3 separate regions of the Homo sapiens genome follow, and regions 1 and 2 are each linked to region 3. Evidence: fine-mapped expression QTL. A gene starts in region 3. Each other region holds a variant in brackets. All regions are shown on one strand. Distances are from middle to middle.

Evidence for each region. PIP is the estimated chance that this variant, and not a neighbour inherited with it, causes the effect.
Region 1: its variant is the best candidate, but not a certain one, in a credible set for the expression of MAP4K5 in monocytes after LPS (Fairfax 2014, PIP 0.60).
Region 2: its variant is the best candidate, but not a certain one, in a credible set for the expression of MAP4K5 in whole blood (TOPMed, PIP 0.58).

The regions. Positions count from the first base shown.
Region 1 is chr14:50,411,266-50,415,511 of GRCh38, reverse strand. No RefSeq gene overlaps it. Among named protein-coding and RNA genes, the nearest start is that of CDKL1, 17 kb to the right of the region's middle. The variant A/G (reference allele first, on the strand shown) is at 1,753.
Region 2 is chr14:50,610,845-50,615,090 of GRCh38, reverse strand. It overlaps ATL1 (atlastin GTPase 1), which reads right to left. Exons shown (of 14, transcript NM_015915.5): 7 at 1,740-1,832; 8 at 580-718. Among named protein-coding and RNA genes, the nearest start is that of ATL1, 53 kb to the right of the region's middle. The variant C/T (reference allele first, on the strand shown) is at 2,383.
Region 3 is chr14:50,530,631-50,534,876 of GRCh38, reverse strand. MAP4K5 (mitogen-activated protein kinase kinase kinase kinase 5) reads left to right here and starts at 2,308. Exons shown (of 33, transcript NM_006575.6): 1 at 2,308-2,429; 2 at 2,719-2,935. The coding sequence starts at 2,828. It also overlaps a transcript of ATL1 not described here. RefSeq lists a silencer at 1,985-2,614.

The DNA.
Region 1 (4,246 bases), 120 kb after region 3:
TGAAACCCCGTCTCTACTAAAAATACAAACAAATTAGCTGGGCGTGATGGCCGCACGCCTGTAGTCCCAGCTACTCGGGAGGCTGAGGCAGGAGGATCGCTTGAACCTGGGAGGCAGAGGTTACAGTAAGCCAAGATTGTGCCATTGCACTCCAGCCTGGCAACAGAGCAAGACTCCGTCTAAAAAAAAACAAATGGCCAACAGATACATGAAAAAATACTCAATGTCACTAATCAGGGAAATGCAAATTAATGAGATATCACCTCACACTGTTATTATCAAAAAAATGAAAGAGGCTGTGGTGGCATATGCCTGTAATCCCAGTGCTTTGTGGGGCTGAGGCGGGAGGATCGCTTGAGGCCAGGAATTCGAGACCAGCCTGGGCAAACATAGCAAGACCCTGTCTCTATTAAAAAAAAAAAAAAAAATTTAAGAAAAATTACCTGGGTGTGGTGGGCATGCCTGCAGTCCCAGCTACTTGGGGGGCTGAAGTGGGAGGATCCTTTGAGCCTGGGAGTTAGAGGCTGCAGTGAGCTATGGTCGCACCACTGTACTCCTGCCTAGACACCAGATCAAGGCACTGTCTAAAAAAAAAATGCTGGAGAAGGAAACCCTTGTACACTGTTGGTAGGAATATAAATTAGTGCAGCAATTAAGGAAAACAGTATGGAGGGTCGTCAAAAAAAATTAAAAATAGAACTCTGTGATCCAGCAATCCCACTACTGGGTATGTGTCCAAAGGAAATGAAATAAGTATGTTGAAGAGTTACCTGCGCACCCAAGTTCATCACAGCATTATTCACAGTAACCAAATAAATCAACCTAAGTGTCCATCAGTGGATGAATGGATAAAAAAAAAAAAATAGGGTATATACACACAATGGAATACCATTCAGCTTTGAAAAAGAGAAGGAAATCCTGTCATTTGTGACTACATGGATAAACCTAGAGGACATCATGTTAAGTGAAATAAGCAAGGCACTGACCAACAAATACCACATGATTTCACTGACATGTGGAATCTGAAAAAGCAGAACTCATGGAAGTAGAGAGTAGAAGTGTGGTTACCAGGGCCTGGAGCTGTGCTGGGGGATCTTAGTTTGGGGATGGGGAGATGTTGGTTAAAGGATACAAAATTTCACTTAGGAGGCTTTGGGTTTTTTTTTTTTTTTTTTTTTTTTGAGACGGAGTCTTTTGCTCTGTCGCCCAGGCTGGAGTGCAGTGGCGCGATCTCGGCTCACTGCGAGCTCCGCCTCCTGGTTCACGCCATTCTCCTGCCTCAGCCTCCCGAGTAGCTGGGACTACAGGCACCCGCCACAATGCCCAGCTAATTTTTTTGTATTTTTAGTAGAGATGGGGTTTCACCATGTTAGCCAGGATGGTCTCGATCTCCTGACTTTGTGATCCGCCCGCCTCAGCCTCCCAAAGTGCTGGGATTACAGGTGTGAGCCACTGCGCCCGGCCAGGAAGTTTTTTTAATCAAGAACATTATTTCGTGGCATGGGGATAATATAATCTGCCAAAATAATGAAAAGTTGTTTTTGAGGAGAGAGATGGAAGGGCATGCTTTGTGATAACAAACTTTTACAGGTCTATTTGATTCTTTATGTGCATGCATACATTTGATTTTTTTCATGTTAAAGAAAAATGTAACTTTAAATAAAAGCATGAACCCCTGCATGACCAGAACAGTGTGACAAAGCCAGTTTCTTACACTGTACTTTGTACACAGTAGGCATTCAATAAATATCA[A/G]TTGAGCGTAGCTAATGTATGCGTCATGTGGAAGGAGGCAAAAGTAGCTGGAGACAAAAAGCTAGGTGAAGTAAATCCCATAAGGTCTTGTGAGAAAAAGCAGTTTCATCAAACTTCTTTTCTTTGGCTAAGCCTCCTCTCCAGCCTTCTCTCCCACTATTCTGCCAAGCACCCTGGGATACTGGCCACATAGAGGCCATGATCACTCCAGTTTCATTGCTGGGCTCATAATGGCTCTTCCATCCTACAGTTCTGATTTATTTTATCAAACCTTAAATCCTTTACCTTAATGATACTCAGTTCAAGCCATAACTTTTCTATGACAGCTCTGACCACTTAATCCAAATCCAAATCGTTTTCTGTTTCTCAGAATTTCTACAGCACATATGGATTGTACATTTCAGTGTAACATTCAATTGTTACCTACTAGCCAAACCACTTAGCACTTACCTTAGACAACTTATTCAACCTGTCTAGGCCTCCATCTTTTTCTCTGTTGATTGGAAATAATGGCCCCTTCATTGGTTGTTAGGAGGATTAAAGGACATAATGTGGATTAGTTTCCCGCTCATAGCAGTAACTCAAGAAAAACAAAAAAAGTTGACTTATTTATTTTTCACCAAGAAGTTCACTAAGGGCATAGGTATGTTTTCATTCTTTAACTGTTCCTTTCAGTATGTCACATATTGGTGGACTTAGCATGGGGCTTTTAAATTTTTTTTCTAATTCCTTTGGGTATATATTCAGTAATGGGATTGCTGGGTCAAATGGTATTTCTGGTTCTAGATCCTTCAGGATTCGCTACACTGACTTCCACAGTGGTTGAACTAATTTACACTCCCACCAACAGTGTAAAAGTGTTCCTATTTCTCCACATCCTCTCCAGCATCTGTTGTTTCCTGATTTTTTAATGATCGCCATTCTAACTGGTCTAAATGGGGAAAGGACTCCCTATTTAATAAATGGTGCTGGGAAAACTGGCTAGCCATATGTAGAAAGCTGAAACTGGATCCCTTCCTTACACCTTATACAAAAATTAACTGAAGATGGATTAAAGACTTACATGTTAGACCTAAAACCATAAAAACCCTAGAAGAAAACCTAGACAATACCATTCAGGACATAGGCGTGGGCAAAGACTTCATGACTAAAACACCAAGGGCAATGGCAACAGAAGCCAAAACTGACAAATGGGATCCAATTAAACTAAAGAGCTTCTGCACAGCAAAAGAAACTACCATCAGAGTGAACAGGCAATCTACAGAATGGGAGAAAATTATTGCAATCTATCCATCTGACAAAGGGCTAATATCCAGATCTACAAAGAAGTTAAATTTGCAAGAAAAAAACAACCCCATCAAAAAGTGGGCAAAGGATAGGAACAGACAGTTCTCAAAAGAAGACATTTATGCAGCCAACAAACATGAAAAAAAGCTCATCATCGCTGGTCATTAGAGAAATGCAAATCAAAACCACATTGAGATACCAACTATAGCATTTTTAAAAGAAAATATCTTCATGAACTTGAGGTCTGCAAAGATTTTTTTGAACAGAACATTAAGTTTTGACTATAAAAAGGTTGGTATGGCGGCTCACACCTGTAATCCCAGCACTTTGGGAGGCCGAGGTGGGCAGATCACTTGAGGTCAGGAGTTCAAGACCAGCCTGGCCAACATGGTGAAACCCCGTCTCTACGAAAACTACAAAAATTAGCTGGGCGTGGTGGTGGACACCTGTAATCCCAGCTATTCAGGAGGCTGAGGCAGGATAATTGCTTGAACCTGGGAGGTGGAGGTTGCAGTGAGCCAAGATCGCGCCACTGCACTCCAGCCCGGGCAACAAGAGTGAGGCTCCGTCTCAAAAAATAAATAAATAAATAAAAGTTGGTAAAATACTTTCTCTACTCAAGACGAGTAGAGAAAATCTTCATTTTATAAAAATGAAGACAAGCCACAGAATGGAAAAAGAGGCTTGTATTACATATAGCCACAGAAGATCTCCCAGAAGACATTAAGAACTACAATCAATAAGGAAAAGGCGGACAACCCGGTAGAAAAAAGAGCAAAAGATTTCGAGCAGGCATTCCACAAAAGATAGCATCCAAGTAATCAATAAATATGTGAAAATGTATTCAGCTTAATTGGTTATCAGATAAATGCTCCCTTCAAATGGATGCTGGACTGCTAAAAACACCAGATGTCCTGTATACCATAAACAACCACTTGGTGAAGCTTAAAAAAAGCAAAACCACTCACCGCATTTGAGTGAAATGGTTCATTAAATCATCATGATATTCAACCACATATTCTTTCCTCAGTAATTTTGCTAAGTGTAATATTTAGCACACTGTAAATGTGACATTTGATTTTGGGTATCTGACTTTATCCTGGTCATGTTTCTTAAAGCTAAGTCTTCCTGGATTAGTTACCACCATGATTATCTTACAATGAATAAAAGACACAAGAGAATCCAGAGATTTCTGTTGATCATGGAG
Region 2 (4,246 bases), 80 kb before region 3:
GAATCATGTAACAATCAGTCCTCTATTAAAGACATAATTACATCCTATAAGTATACACTATTTGAAAAACACTCTAGTGCTTTTCTTTTAAGACACTGGTCCTCTTCTTCTTCCACACAAGATTTCATTTTTAGTGAAGTTTTTAATAATTTATAATTAAATTCTTTAGGAGCAGTTTTAAAGAGCATTTCTTTCAATCTCTAATTACATAACTTAATACAGAATTCCAATACTATAGACATCTGTTTTCCTTTTTCATGTAGATAAGGAAAATTAAGCCTAAAAATATTAAGGAGCACTTCTCAGTGCACAGAGATAAGAAGGTGAGGGTTACTGCCTTCTGGGTGAACTCAGGATCCGGCCTATTTTTGCAGGCAGTGTATACATCCAGCGCCCATAGAATCCCACAGTTCACCAAGGAGGAGCACCAGCCCAGGATGCCCTATTCTCCTGACAATTTCTAATCATCAGCCTCCTATCAGTGGATAAACTAAACTATCAGCCATAAGCCCAATAGATAAAATGACATTTTTATAATCAGACTAAGTGATGCAAACATATTCATTAAAAGACACAAACCTTTCAATTTTCCATCAAAGTTTGGATTGGTAGCTACTTTTAAGCCAGGATGAGGTAGCAGAAAACAGGAAATGTTGGTGAAACAGGAATGGATGTGTTTTCTGACGTTCTGTAGTTCTTCATGCTGGTTCCCTGAGACCTGCAGTAAATCATTCTGAAGTTTAAACTACTTTCATCACAAATTATGCAAAGGAATTCTGTGGCATCTTATATTTGCTATGTCTGTTTGGTCCCACAATGATGAAAATGACACGACAGGGCTGCTACTAAAGAAAGAAGAAAGTCTTGGGTGGGTTTGCCCACACAGAGCCGTGTCTAAGTATAGAAAACGCATGGCATAGTTTTAATTAACAAGTGTCTACCCTTATGCTAACTCACATGGACCTTCCCATTTTTTAATACAAATTAGTGGGGTTTTAATCTGGCTAGTTTCTACAAATTCAAATTTTAATTCAAAGCACTCGTAGGAGCCACAAAGAGAAAGTAGGATATTTCTACTTTCTTTTTAGTAGATATTCAAGGCAGCCTCCTATCACCTGGTAAGTGTACATTTAAATTCTAGAATGGAATCTGAATAGTTGGGTGTTTACTTACAAGCTAAATCACCCTCACCTCCCACTTTATGTAAATACATATTTGATAGTTTTTAATACAGACAAACTTTTATGACTGTAAACCTAATAAGTTCAGAGATCCCAATTTTCAAGGAACATTTTTGTAAATTTTGATCTTTCTCCCCTGATTTCCCAGTAGGCACTTTTGGTGATATCTGCTCAGTGTAACAATTTGTACAGTATTGAACCAGCACGACACAGAAAGTGGAAGGTCTTCTAATTTTACATTCTGTGCTCTAAGATTGACTCCAGGGATTTCAAAATTAGATATTTGTTACACTGGCTTTGAAACCTCTATTAAAACCTGAATCTTGATATTTGCACTGTCAGTCTTGAAGTGATTTAATTCTTCAAAGTAAAAGTTTTATCTTTAGGAGTAACTTATTGTTTTATAGATATATACAAAGAATTCTTCACCTGTGTCATTAATATCGATAACAAATGAGATTGCGGCTAGTGGCTACTGAGTATCTATTCACCAAATGATCCAACAGAAATAATTCCAGATTATTAGTGAAATTTCATGCACCTAAATATCTAACAAACCTTGAGGCGTTTTTCCAAGAATTTGGCACCACCATCGGCTCCATATGAAAATTCGTATGGGAAACTCCAGTCTCGAACAAGAAATATCAGACTCTAAAAAATAATAAGAAAGGATTGATATGAGGACTTTAAGGTGCCTCCCTTTGCTTTATATGGAAACCAGTTATAATATCACTGTCATTTGAATATCGTTCTTTCCCACATTGCTGAATTAAAAATCAAACATAAAACCTTTGAAAGTGTCTGGGCAGTCTCTCCCCTATGAGATCATCCTACATATTTCCATTAAATGTGAACAGAAGGCTGTGTACAAAATGCCAGCATGAACGCACCCCACTGAGAGATGACAGAGATGACTCCCAAACTGCCTGAATGGAGCTATGTCACTATAATCAGATTTTGTGTAGAATAGGTTCCTAGGAATCTTCCTTTCTGATAGGTATGGCTGAATGCAGGCATAAGATATAAGATCAGCTTTTCTTTTATAAAGAAATTGTTTTAATGTTTTTATAGAAATGATATGTATGTATGCGCATCATAAAAAGTTCAAACTAGATAGCAGAGTCCAGAGAGAAAATTTAAAAATGCACCCCACATCCCATCTCCTGGATTTAACGATAGTTAACATTTGGTGAACATCATC[C/T]AGTCGTCTCCCTAGGTACATACACAAATGGAAGAGGGCTAAAAGAAAGAAAAAGGAGAAAAACAGTTTTATAAAAAGTAGAACTGTTTTGTATGTGGCATTTTAAATAAAAAGTATTAAAATGCACTTGAAATTAACTGACTAAAAGGAAGATGAGATGACATTTAAAATACTGCTGAATTTCAAGTAAATGATTTTTTTACCATTAGAAGTTCTAATAAATTCACTTGAAATTAAGAACAAAGATTTTGGAAAACATTGAGCTGGGAGTCATGTGTTTAACTTTTTATACCTTTGAATGGAATATAGTCCACATACAGAAAACTGCACATTAAGTATATAACTTAATGAATTTTCACAAACTGAACACATTGTGTAACTAGCACCTAGATCAAGAAACAGAGAATATCCAGCACTCCATAAGCCCCTCCTCCTGCCACCCTCCAGTCATGACCCCTTGCTCAAGGGTAACCACGTGCCTGACTTTTAACAGCATCAGTTCGTTTTGCCTGTTTTTATAATTTGCGTAAGTGGAATCATACATGATACATGATATATTCTTTTGGTCTAGCTTCTGTCACTCAACATTATATTTGTGAGATTAATTATATTATTGCATAATTGTTCATAATTCATAGTCATTACTGCGCAATTTCCCATTATGTGAATAATGATTAATTCATTCTGTAGATGGGCATTTCAGTGTCTCTAGTTCTTGGCTGGCATGAATAGTGCTGCTATGAACATTCATATGTCTTCTGCTCTTCTTTCTGTGTCTTCTTTCTTTTGCGTTTATAACTAAAGCAGAATTACTGGGTAGAGAGTGTGCACATGTTCAGGACTGGTTGATATTGTCCATTTTCCAAAGTACCAATTTATAACCTTACCAGCAGTCTTAGAGGGTTCCTGATGCTACACATCCTCACCAATGCTTGATATTCTCTGTCTTTTTAATTTTAAACATTCTGGAGGGTGTGGTTTAGTAGCCTAGCCCATTGTGTTCAATATGCATTTCCCTGATGATTAATGAAATTAAGCACATTGTCATATGTTTGTTGGCCCTTTGTGTTTATTCTTTTTTGTGAAGAGGCTGATCAGGTCTTTTGTCTTTACTTATTGGTTTGGAGTCATGCTTTTTAAATATATGTTTCACCTTTAATTCCCTGCCATAAGAAAATCAGCATTCTCAGATTTCCTCTTACCACTCCTCCCTTCCTTCTACGTTTTACATGTCATAACTTTGAAATAAAACCAAAAGCAGTTTGAGTAAATATGTTTAAAATGTAATAAACATTGAAAGATACTACAAATGCATATGGAAATTACAAGACAATTTATATATGTACTATTTCTATGTGTTCCCATATCATCCTGAACTTCCCCTATTATAACACTAGAAGTTGGTGGACTTCTTTCAGTTGTAAGTAATGAAATCCAATTCCAACAAGTTTAAGCAAAAAAGTAGATAATTGGTTCTGTAATTGGAAAGGTCAGCGGTGTAGGTGGATTTCAGAAGGATTTGGGACACTTAAGTGACATTAAGGCTCTTTCTCTCTCTGAACAGTCCTCTCTACATGACGGCCAAGATGACCACTGAGATCCAGATTCACATCCTGCTAGCTTAGCAACACCAGTGCAAGTCAGTTTTTCAAGACAGCTATGTCAGGAAATTTCCAGGAATGGGCCCAATTTGATCATATGCCCAGTCCAGAAATAATCACTGTGGTCAGAGGGATGGGATGGTCTGAACTGTCACCTGTATGTAAGGGGTGAATGTCATCAGGTTCACCTGAACCAGAGGGAATTGGAGAGAGGAGTTCTATTGCTAGAAGGGGAACTAGACGGAAAAAGAAATAGATAACTC
Region 3 (4,246 bases):
GTAAATTGAATTTGCATTTCTTTACAAAGCAACCCACTTCACTGATCTTGTTAAAATTAACTCAACCAGTATTTTAAAAATCCTTAAGATTCTTTTGGAGTTAGTATAAAACAAATGTTTTCCTCTTTGCATGAATTGCAGTACAAGTAAAATAATGATTATAGCAGACACATAGAGTCTCGACTTTTTAACCACCACATAGAGTCTTGACTTTTTCCATGCTATCTGCCTCTAGGTTGATGGTCAAAGCATATGGATCTGCCATTACTGGCAACATAAAATATCCGCACTCCAGGGTCTTGTTGAAGCCTATGACCTCAAACATTTCACTGCCTAATTCATTTTAAATGCTGTATTTCAAGAATAACATGCTTAAAGGATTGTCAGGATATTTGTCCTCGTCTCAAACTGGGCATTCAGTTTCTACTTTATGAAGAAGGCTCATTAAATAAAATTTTTGGAAGTCTTTGCATTAGGAAAATATATGCCTCTTCTTGATCAATTGGTTACTCTTGATCTCAAAAACACTATAAAATCCTCTGGTTGGCCGATTTGTCACACTGTTCTGGTTTCGTATTTTCCTTCTCTTTAACGTCATACTAGTTTGCCCACTTATTTTTATCTTGTTTTATAGTAAGTGTTTTCTGTGTGCTGCCTGAAATTCCCTGGAGTAACGCAAGTGTAAACATGTAAGAATAAATATATTTCAGACTAGATAAAGGATCAGTGCTTATATGGCCAGAGGAAAAAAATCTCAAATGAATCTATGACAGTAAACAAGTGCTAAGATACCAATAGAACATTTGAAGAGATTTTGAGTCATCGAAGCCAAAAGTATGTGCCCACCAAAACAAGTGCCAAGAATCTTTGAAAGAAGGAACTGTTCTTCAACAATTTTTTCAATGCAGCAAACACATAGGCTTTGTCCATGGAGCATGTAAGTCTGGGCTTACTTATGTTCCCCAAATAAGTGCCCTTTGTGTGTGGAGCACAAGAAAATACATATATGCCCTGTCCTGTTAAGGTGCGAATTTAATTTCTACATTATACAATTATCAACAATAAGGAGTATTGTCAATTACTCCTTATTATACATTATACAATTATCAACAATAAGGAGTATTTTAATTCTCAAGAGCAGAATTAAAAATTGGATGTTCAAAGCCACAAGCCAACATCTCCAACTTGCTCTTTTATGATGTTTCAGTCACTAAATGCAGTGGCTGAGTGTTATCTGGCTTTTCTGTTCAAATTCTCTATGAGGCTCTAGAAATAACTTAGCCAGTATAATGTAACACTGGCAACTTAATTTCTACCTTCAGAGCAAGACTGGAACTGAAACTGCAAAACAGCTTGTGAAATATCAGCCAAATTACTTCCCCGAACTCCTGTTCCATATATGCTGTGCATTGTTAAGTATTTTAAGACCTCTTATATTCGATAACCCCCCTTACTATCCTGTAAAACGCTTTATAAACACTTTCCTGGGTGTCAGATGCAAAATCTTACCCTCTTCAAGCTGCAGATAAGGACACCGAGATGTTGCCAAATATGCTGTTTTGTCCCAGAGCACATACTGAGGAAGTGGTAGAACCAGAACCAGTCTGTGACCCCTTTGTTTTACTTTTGCGGAACTCCTGGTCTCATTAAAGGTGCAATACCAGCGATGAGACACTGCGTGTGCCCAACAGGGACAAAGGTCATTGAGCAGTCCTAGGAATTCAGACTTTCAGAAATGTCTCAGAAGAACTAAGTAGAAGGCAGGTTGTGCAGGTGTGCAGTGCAGCCTCAAACTGGTACCACCGGGATCGGTTTGCAAAACAGGAAGGTGCAGTAGGGTGTGCCGGGACTTAGTTAACCTGGCACTCCCCCACCTCCTTCCCCGGCGCCCCGCTGCCAGGTTACTTCTGGCCCGGTGCCCTTAACGTACCTTTTCCGTGTTTAACTTGGAGGGCTACGTTCCCATCGCCCTTCTTCCTCTACCCGTCACCCTACAGGCCTACCTGACAAATGTGGGGACGGTTTAGCCAAGGCCCGTTGGCCCACGAATGCCCAGGCGTGTGCCTTATTTCTGAGAGTGGGAGGGAGACAGCCCAGGCCCTGCAAGGACGCGCCCGGCTAGGGGGGCGCGGTGGCGCGGTCGGGAGGGTGTTGTGTTCTCAGCAGGCCTCAGGGCGGCACTCTGGTTCTGCGGCCGGAGTGCTCGGGCGGGCCGCTGGGCGCCGACCCATGCTGGCTGGGAACGTGTCTCCCGGTGACGCAGCCCCGGGTGGGGAACGTGGTGCGGCGGCGGCGGCGGCGGCGACTGTACGCGCCTCCGCCGCCCCCGAGAGGACGCGCCGTGCAGCGGCTGAGTGGCGGCGGCGGCGACGGCAAACCCGGAGCTGCCGGCCGGCGCGCGGGAGGAGGACGCGGGTGCGGTCTAGGAAGTAGGTCCCGGGCTCCGCGCTCAACAAAGACGGGGCCGCCCCCATTAGGTACGGAGCCGGCCCTGGGCCCCGGCTGGCGGGGAGGCCTCGTCGGGCAGTTCGCGGGCGGCCGGGGAGGGGGAAGGGCCGCAGACCGAACGGGGATACGGGGCGCCGGGGGCCCTTCCAGGCCCCTTTCTCTTCCACGGCCCCTGGCGGGACGGAAGGGAAGGGGCCGGGCCGCGAGGGCGCGGGCCGCTGGGGGTCGTAGCCTGCGACGCCAACCAGCCTTTGCTCGTCCCTCGTGCAGACGGAGCTGCGGGCGGAGGCTCCATGTTGGGAAGCGGCGCCGTTCGTGCTTGTTAGCGGGAATCCGGGAGCCGCGGGGTGAGCTGGCGGGGGCCGGGCCCTAAGTGAAGATGGAGGCCCCGCTGCGGCCTGCCGCGGACATCCTGAGGCGGAACCCGCAGCAGGACTACGAACTCGTCCAGAGGGTCGGCAGCGGCACCTACGGGGACGTCTATAAGGTAAGTGAGGCTGGCCGTGCTTTTTTCCTGCGGTCGACTGGGTCCCGGGAATGGGGCCACTTTCCTGCGAAGTATTGGGGCGAGAGGAGGATGCTTTTATTGTTGCCTCTTGGGGAGAAAGCGGCCGGGGTCCCTTTTACTCGGTTCTGAGCACCCTCGACTCATGGCTTGTTCTAATCGCTACCAACAGGCAGAACTAACCACACAGTTGCAAACCGCTGTTGCACTTTTTTTGTGGTTTAAAGGCTTTTTAATAGGGCTTATTTATGGTATTGAAGGGAATTTGAATCTGCTTGTGGAATTACACCGAAGGATGCTCTAGTGTTAGCATGGAAAAATGCTTCATGGAAGATAGACAGGAAAGAATATTGACATTCAGACATTTGCATTTTTTTAAAAAAATTTGTTTCAATGGATGAGTTTGACTAAAAAAGCCATATGAAACCCTGTCTCTGAGCTTTAACTGTAAGCAAACTAATATTGGTGACATTTATGCAAGCATTATCCCATATAAAAAGATGCTTTTCCTGGTGGAAGTTTGATCGTTTGTTTTTGGTTGGCGATAAAAATGTGATATTAACTTGCTGGGTTTTGTTTTACTTTAGCGGTTCCTTTCAGGGATTTATAACATCCTATAACCAAGAGTGGATATGAGCCGCTGTCTTTGTATTGTGCTGTTTTGTATTACTTAAGACAAACGATGAGAGTAAGTTACACCTAATTTAGGATTTTAAAAAACATTGTAGAGAAGCAAACCCAATTCCCCAAATCCGCTGAGTTCTTGAATGGTTCAGAGGAAAGAGATTGAGATTGCCTTATGCTTTTTGTTGTGTGTTCCAAAAAGGGAGCATTAGTGCAGCCTATGAATATTAAGGGCAAATTCCTTTGCTTTTTGCAACGGCGTTGTTTATTGGATTTGATCATGATATATATCGCATTGTGCCAAACAACACTTCTGCATATCGCTGAAGTGGTTTTGTGTCATTTGGGTAATTAACCAGTAGATTCCTCTGGGGTTAGGTTGTTGTTTTGCACAGGTGGTTCCCCTCTTTCTACTTACTTTTAATTTCCTCCTAATTAATATTAGCATTTCAAGGTAGTGGTATTATCAAACAGCCCTAGCACTGTTTGATTCTACTGAGATAAACTGTAATGGATAGGCTTTTTATTGCTTAAACAAGCATTTGAGTCTTCTGTACCAGGCACTGGTAGAGGTACTGAGGTGATGAATTGTGAGCAAGGTTCTGGCTCTTACCTTGTGAATACCTTTGAACTCAAAGTGTATGTTTGTAACAATCCTCTTCTTCTTTA